Linked DNA regions of Homo sapiens. The protein of the gene in region 2 purifies or fractionates together with the protein of the main gene of each other region. This does not show direct contact. Each region holds a gene or a part of one and is shown on either strand. Other genes may lie near its edges.

The links. Proteins that work in one complex are often made in the same cells at the same time.
Region 1: the proteins of ABLIM2 (region 2) and CSF1R fractionate together in Homo sapiens (co-fractionation; one large-scale study listed by BioGRID). This does not show direct contact.

Annotation. Positions count from the first base shown.
Region 1 is NC_000005.10:150,080,055-150,083,725, forward strand, and holds part of CSF1R (macrophage colony-stimulating factor 1 receptor isoform a precursor), read right to left. Parts: intron 971-3,671; coding exon 713-970; intron 283-712; coding exon 1-282. UniProt on the Homo sapiens protein: Tyrosine-protein kinase that acts as a cell-surface receptor for CSF1 and IL34 and plays an essential role in the regulation of survival, proliferation and differentiation of hematopoietic precursor cells, especially mononuclear phagocytes, such as macrophages and monocytes.
Region 2 is NC_000004.12:8,156,714-8,160,313, reverse strand, and holds the start of ABLIM2 (actin-binding LIM protein 2), read left to right. Parts: upstream 1-1,500; 5' UTR 1,501-1,624; coding exon 1,625-1,634; intron 1,635-3,600. UniProt on the Homo sapiens protein: May act as scaffold protein. May stimulate ABRA activity and ABRA-dependent SRF transcriptional activity.

The DNA of each region.
Region 1 (3,671 bases), on a different chromosome or scaffold from region 2:
TCTGCACTTTCAGCCGGATGCTGATGGACATCACCTTCCTGCCACCCATCAGGGCACTGCATTGATAGTCCTGGCTCTGAATGAACTTGGCCCTGTGGATGGTGAAGCCATGCCAGGGCGAGAAGGAGTAGTTGGTGTGGCGCATGAGGGGCCGGCCACGCACACGCACCAGCGAGACGCCTGCTTCCAGCACCGGGTCTGTGAGCAGACAGGGCAGTAGTGCGTCCTGGTCCTCGAACACGACCACCTCCTGTGCTAGCACGTTCCAGGGCCGGGCAGGGTCTAGAGTAGAGGAGGGCACAGGGTTACAACTGCCCTCCCTCCACTGGGCCAAGGAGTACCTGGACATAGGTGACAAGGAAGCTCAGAGAGGCTGATCATTCATCTGAGGTCACACCACGCCAGGACAGTTCAGCGGATGCTTCAGCGTGGTGGCTCCAGAGTCAGGCGCACCTGGGCTCCAGTCTAGTCCCACTATGTGAGGCTGTGTGACCTTGGATAACCTCCCTGCACTTCTAGAAAATGCATCATCATAGACCCGACTTGCAGGGTTGTTGTGAGGACTGCATTACATTAGCAGCTCTTCCAGGTCCTTGCTCATAGCCAGCACTCAGTAAATGCAGAGCTGAATTGTTACGATTGTTAATTTTAGGGCCCATTGTAGTGGGGCCTGCCGGGTCAGGCCTCTTGGGAGGAGGCTCAGACTCCTCACCTTTGACATAGAGGTGGATGGCGGCGCTGCCTCCCAGGGGGTCTCCAGGCTCAGTGCAGCGATAGGTCCCCGTGTTTTGGAAGGTAGCGTTGTTGGTGCTGAGGATGCTGCTGGAGCCATCAGAGTACAGGGTCCAGTGAGGTGATGGGGGGCCATCCCATTCCACGCTGCCATTGCCCACACATCGCAAGGTCACCGTTGCTCCTGGCTTCACGACCAGCTCAGGGACACTGGGCTCTATCACTGGGATTCCCTGACCTGGTGGGAGAGAGGGACAGCAGACAGAAGTGAGGTCTAGGATGCGCCCCTTGGGCCGTCCTGACTCTGAGATGGGTGGTAGCTTGGCAGGGATGGTGCTGTGCCATCAAGGGACCACCTTGAACGAGCCCCTGCCCCCTGGTCATTTGCTCAGCTCCTAACCCTCAACCTGCTCAGGGACAGACTGATGTCTCTGATGTCCAGGAGGTCCCTCCTCTGAGAAAGGGGGCTTGCAGCTTGCTCAGCCTCTCACCCAGGCCTCTGTCCCCCTGGGGTCCTCAGCCTCCTGCCTCAGTCTTCCCTGCTGTGATGCCATCTTTCTACTCCCCAGGAATGGACTCTTTTAACCCTGTGTACAAAGTGGACGTATTTCTACCACCGAATGAAGAAACAAATGAATGGAATGTTCACGGCCAAGTCCTCAGCTTAATTCATATGGGAAAGAAAAAAAAAGAGATGTAGGATCTTAGCCCAGCAGAGTTAGAGAGGTCCCAAGAATCTCCTGGTGTGCCCGCTCCCACCAATGGACATCTGGTCTGCAGCACAGTGGGATGGGGAGGTGCCATGCCTCAGTTTCCCCACCTATAAAACAGGGACAATCATCGTACCCACTCATTGGTATGTTAGGCATTTTAAATGCATGGGAAGACTTTAGAACATCACCTGTCACCAAATAAATGGCTCAGTAAGAGTTAGTCACTATGTTTATTACCTAGTCTACACCCAGCAGCTCACCCCGGCACCCCCACACATCTGTGTTTACTGGGAAGCCAATCTCTTTTAAGGAAAATTTTCTTGAAGGAGAAAAGAGAACTTGAAACCCCTATCAGGCTGTCCGGGAAGAAGGCCCGTTGCCTCTGCAGCGTCAGCATTTTTCCAGGGCCTAAAATAGGGGCAAAGGAGGGAAGTGAGAGCTGATTCAAGCCTCCGAGGGGCTGCCAGGCGCCCCCCAGCCTGTGTGGGCGGAAACACATTGTTGGCGTCAGGCTCAGCCCCCGGTTTCCGCTCAGCCTGTGGCCCTTCTACAGGGATGTTCTCACTTCTGCTTCCCCAGCCTCCTAGCCACTCTCCTCTCTCCAGGCAGGGAGAGGGAGTGCCACTTGCGGGGCAGCTGTGAGGCTGGGCTCTGACGCTGACCCACTGGCTGACCCTGGCCATCCAACTCCTCAGCTCTGGCCCTTCCTCTTCCCAGTGATGGGGGCACAATGACAGGCCAGCCCCGAGGGCTTTCGGTGAATTCAGGGTATCTCCATTGTTCTCTGCAAACCCCCTTGAAATGGAAATTCCCCCTGCCCCACCATAGAGCCCAGAATTGGAAAGGTTTCCTCTCTCAAGTCCTTTCAGGATGGCTTAATTCACGTTTTGATTTTGTATTCATCAGAATGTGCATCCCTTCTCCCCAAGACTCTGATCAGCAAACGAGATTGAGTGAATTGTGAATACTGCCAAGCCTGCCACCTGGGGTTGTAGCCCTCCTATGCAGTGCAACTGCCAGGAAGAGGGACAAGTGTCATTTCTAGCAGCCTTTTTAGCAAATCTCAACAGAGCTGGGGCTGCCCTATCACTGCTGCAGCAATCTAGGGCCCCCAGGCCGGGGTTTTATAGCAGGAAACAGCTTGGAGTGTGGGCTCACACCAACTTGGGTTTGGATCTTGGTTCTTCCCTTACCAGCTGGGTTAGTTTCTTAACCTCTTTGAGCCTCAGGCTATTCTTCTGTCTGATGGGAATAATCCCAGCTCCCACCCCAAAAACTTCAGCTGAAGGTTGAGTGAGATGATGTATAGAACTACTCCTGCCCTGGGCACCTGCTTTAATTGCTACATTTCTAATGTCCCTTCTGGGCCAACTCTGATCGCTCAAGATTTTAACCTTGGATTCTGTGATTCCATTTGTTCCTTTTTTACACCTGCCTCACACCTTACAGTGGGCTTCTCCCATCCCTTCCCCCAGCCTGTCTCTCTAGACCCTGCCTTGGCCTCCAGGAAATGTGGTCAGGGAGCGGTGTCTGCCCTATTTTGTCCTATCCTATTGTCCCAGGTATTCACGCAGGATAAGGCTGATACCCGCAACTTCCGCAGCCAACTTCCCCTGCTGGCTTGGCTAGCAGGGAAGGAAGCCGGCTTGGCCCCCATCCTCCTCGGGGTGGGGGCATGGGCTTATGAACATTAACTGAGGTCCCCTTCTGTGCCTGTCCATTCTTCCCCCCTCTCATCTCCACTCCCCAATTCTCCCCATGCCCCACACCTCTCCACTAGCTCCCACTTGCCTGGAAGCCCCTCCCTCATCACTTCCAGAATGTGCCCCAATCTCTACTCTTCTCTCCCAACACACACACACACACACACACACACACACACACACACACACACACACACACTGCACACTAAGGCTGGACACAGCCCCTCTTCAGCCCAGGATCTCATCGCAGTAATGAAGAGAGAGCCCCCCTCTCTCTCTAGGGTCCTCCAATACCATCCCCAGTCTCCTCACAGTGGCCCCTCATCCACTCATCATTGGTCTGTTGGGCTGAAAACTTAGGTTTCCAGCCTCCCCATCTCTTCTTTCTCTTGGGACTGGACCCTGGAAAACCATCTGGCCCCCCTCCCACACACCATGCCCCTGTGAAGGGAAAATAAAAACTTGGGACCCTAATTCACTCTGCCAAAAGGAAAAATCAAGCTGGAAACTGAGTCATGCAAGA
Region 2 (3,600 bases):
AGGGCAAGTGGCAGCAGGGTGTACCTACGGCAGGTGGGTGCCTGGCCTACCTCTCAGGCTATGATCCAGGAGTGCCAGGTGCCAGCACTCTCCCCTCCCCTCTATCCTTCTCTCCGTTTATTCAACAGATATTTGCAGACTGCCTGCTCTGTGCCAGGCCCTATGTTAGCCACAGAGAATAATAATAGCAAAGCAAAGACATTTATTGATCTCAACTCACACTGGGTCATGGCACACATTAGTTCACTGATCCTTAGATCTGGCGCCCCCTCAATTACATGGCACAAGATCCCAGTGGACTGGCATGGGAACCCTGCGGCTGCGGGCAGAATCACCTAGCTGGGCCTCCTGGATTTCTAGGGTGTGTGGGGCTTGGCTGGTTCCCCAGGACTTCAGCTCCCCCACTGAGCCACTGTACTCCTGGCCTCCCATCCTGGCCCCTCTTGGGGGAGATGGCTGCTGCTGAGGGAGGGGGAGGAGTACCTGCTCCTGCCTCAGTGTTCCATTCAGTCTACATTTTCTGTGCCCAATCTTCTTCCACTTGTTGAAAGCATCTCCAAACAGCCCTGGCCCAAGCCAAAAGTCCTTGGCCTCTCTCTCCATGCCAGGTTCCCGCGATTCTGCATCCTAAATGCTCCTCCAGCCCAGGCCCTCCGCGCCTGGTGGGCATCCTTGTGTTTGCCGGCTCCTCCCGACCTCTCTGCAGCTCGCCTTTTGTCGCACCAGGCACACAGTGGGGACCCCTGCTCCTCCCCGTTCCCTGACTCCCTCTCCTGCACCCGCGTCCAGGCCCTGTGCTGGGCGCCTGATGTCACAGGGTAGCCGGTCACCGTGGAGGCTGGGGCCGGGGACTGCGCCGAAGTGAGCCGCGCCACCTCTCCCGGTGCACCCCCCAGCTGGGCGCCAGCCGGCGAGGAGCGACGGGAGCCTGGGGTGGGTGGCGAGGCGCGGACAGCCCAAGCCCGGAGGCAGGAAACCTGCGCACGAATCCCCACCAGTGCAAGCCTCGCCGACGGATGCGGGCTAATCCTGCCCGAGCACCGCCCCCGCCTCAGTTTCCCTCTCTGTAAACTGGTAAAGAAGAGTTGGCCCAGAAGGTCTTCAGGCGCCTTGTAGCTCGACTACTCAAGAAGAGCTGCACCAAGCTCGCTTTTCCCTGCGCCGCTCTCCTAGCGACTCCCGGATTCCGTGAGCGGCAGTCCCCACGTCGCCCCTCAGGCCGTGGCGACAGCTCTGCAGAGATCTAAGAACGATTGCGAAAGGCCTCAGCCGCCGTCGCCCGTCTGCGCCTGCGCTGGCCGCGAAGCGTGCTGGGACTTGTAGTCCGATCGCCCCGCAGCTGGGGAGCCAGGCGGAGCGGTGGCGTCGAGGTGCCTACACTTCCCAGGGTGCTCCCGGGCGGCAGCGGGGGCGCGGGGCGGGGCCGCCAGGAGGGGCGTGAGAGTGGGCGTGGCACGGGCGTGGCCTGCGCGCCGTGGGGCTGCGGCGGCGCTGCCTGGCGTGTGCGCAAGGAGCGGGCGCGGAGCCGGCGGGCGGGCGGAGGATAGCGCGGGCGCGGCACCTGCGGGCCCGAGGGTCTGGCTGTCGCAGCGCCGGGCCGCCCCGACTCCGAGCGGCTGCTGAGATGAGTGCAGGTGGGTGCTGGGGACCGAGGGACCAACGGGTCCCCGCGCTGGCTCGCGGCGCCGCAAGGGCTGGGTGGCATTCGGAGGCTGCACCTGCAACGCCGGGGAAAATCACCCAGCGGCTCCACCCAACTTTTGCTCCAGGATTTTGCAGCCCCGAGGGGCCAGAGCGCAGCCCTCTGCCCTGCGCCCGGAGCGCGTAGCTCAGTGGCGCGGGCCGGGGATCCTTTCCCAGCGCGCCGGCCGGCGTGGCTGCGCCAGGATGTCTGGAAGGCGCCCCTTCTTTGCTTCTCACGGGGGTCCGGGTTGTTCCAGGCTGCAGAAAGCGGTCAGGGTCCGCGCGGGGGCCTGGGGTCCGGGCGAAGGGCCGGGGCCCCAGCAGACCTAGGCACGCAGAGGTGAGATGATAGGCGGGGCTTTGCAGCTGGGGGCGCCGCCCTTGCGCCGCTCTGGCAGCGCCTGGGTTGGGGGCGTCAGGCCGACCCTCGGCGCCCAGGACTCTCCGCAGCAGATCTGGGGACCCGGAGCCCGCATGTGTCAGACCCGGCCCCGACCCGATCTCTGCGCGTCTCCAGCCCCTCGCCCCTGCGCGTCGCACCCCTGCCTTTCCCGCCGCACCCACCCTCCGGGATCTGACAGCCTCTGTGCGGGGCTGGAAAAATCCCACAGCGCTGGAGCCCAGCCGCGCCTTGTGCTGTTGGGGAAACTGAGACCTAGAACTGGAGCCCTTGGCGGTGAGCCCTGGAGGCGGCCTGAGGATGCCCGGATCTGAGAGCCTCCTGGGGCCCGCACCGGGCTGAGGGCTTGTCGTTGCATTCCCGGCAGGGAAGGGCTGTCACCCCATTTTTCAGGGTGTGACCCGAGGCGCACCAGGCTTGAGTCACTTGCTTGGCTCAGGAAGGGGGGGCGGGGATTCGAACCCCGGGCTCACTGACTCTTGTGCTCTTTCCTCTAAGCCTGTCGCGCCAGGGACTGCAGTATGGCCCTTGGCCATGGTGCAGAAACCAATGGGGACAGCCGCTTCCCCTGAGGGAGATCGGACTGGGGAGAGAATGTGAATTTAGTAAGAGCTTCCTGTGGGCTGTAGGCCTAGAAGGGGGCGGGGGCTAAGGGCCAGGGACTCCCCTCCCTGGGGAGATTGTCTCCCTCCCCCTCCAATCCAAGGAAGGAGGGACGGCGTTGCCGGGAGCCTTTGGGAGTAGCTGAGAGCAATGGCAGGCGGTTGGGGAGGTCAGAGGCAGAACCCTTTGGAAGAGGATTTCTGAAATGGCCAACCTAGTTATCTGGGAGTGGCTGGGGAGCAGGGCACCCTGAGACTTGGCAGAACCTCCAGACACATTTATCTAATGGCAGGTGGGGATAATGGCTGGGTGCACACAGAGTAATTTTATGCTTCTTGTGGCCATAATTGATACCTGTGGTCCCCCCTGTCATCAGGGAGAGCCTCAGAAGCAGTGCTGGCATCTCTCCTCTGCATCTGACGAGAAGGGGTGTGGGGGCACTGGGGCAGTTGGGGGCAGAGACTGGGGTTTGAACCATGGTGACTGCCTGGTGGTCTTAGGCATAGGTGGCACCTTCCAGAGCTTGGCTTCCTGACCTGTAAGAGCAGTAGCATTGGTTGCCTGGAGGGGACAAGGTACAACATGAAGAGCCCCACACCTGGGAGGCCCTCGGTAGTTTGGGATGGTCATTGCTGGGTGGCCAGCTCAGCTCAGACCCTCTGAATCAATCCAGCCCTTTGGAACTGGCAATGTGTGCTCTCCGGGCCACCTGTCGCCCCTGCCCAGCCCTGTCCCCAGCCGATGATGCGCACAGCAGGCATTCCACCCACACAGTGGGGGAGAGCAGACAGCATGGTCCCTTGTTCCTGGCATGTGGGCTCTAACGTCCGGCCACTGTGTATGTCTGGCAGGACAGGAGCTTCCATCATCAACAAGGGCAACAAGGGCAGGTCCCCTGTGGCCCTCCCCACACC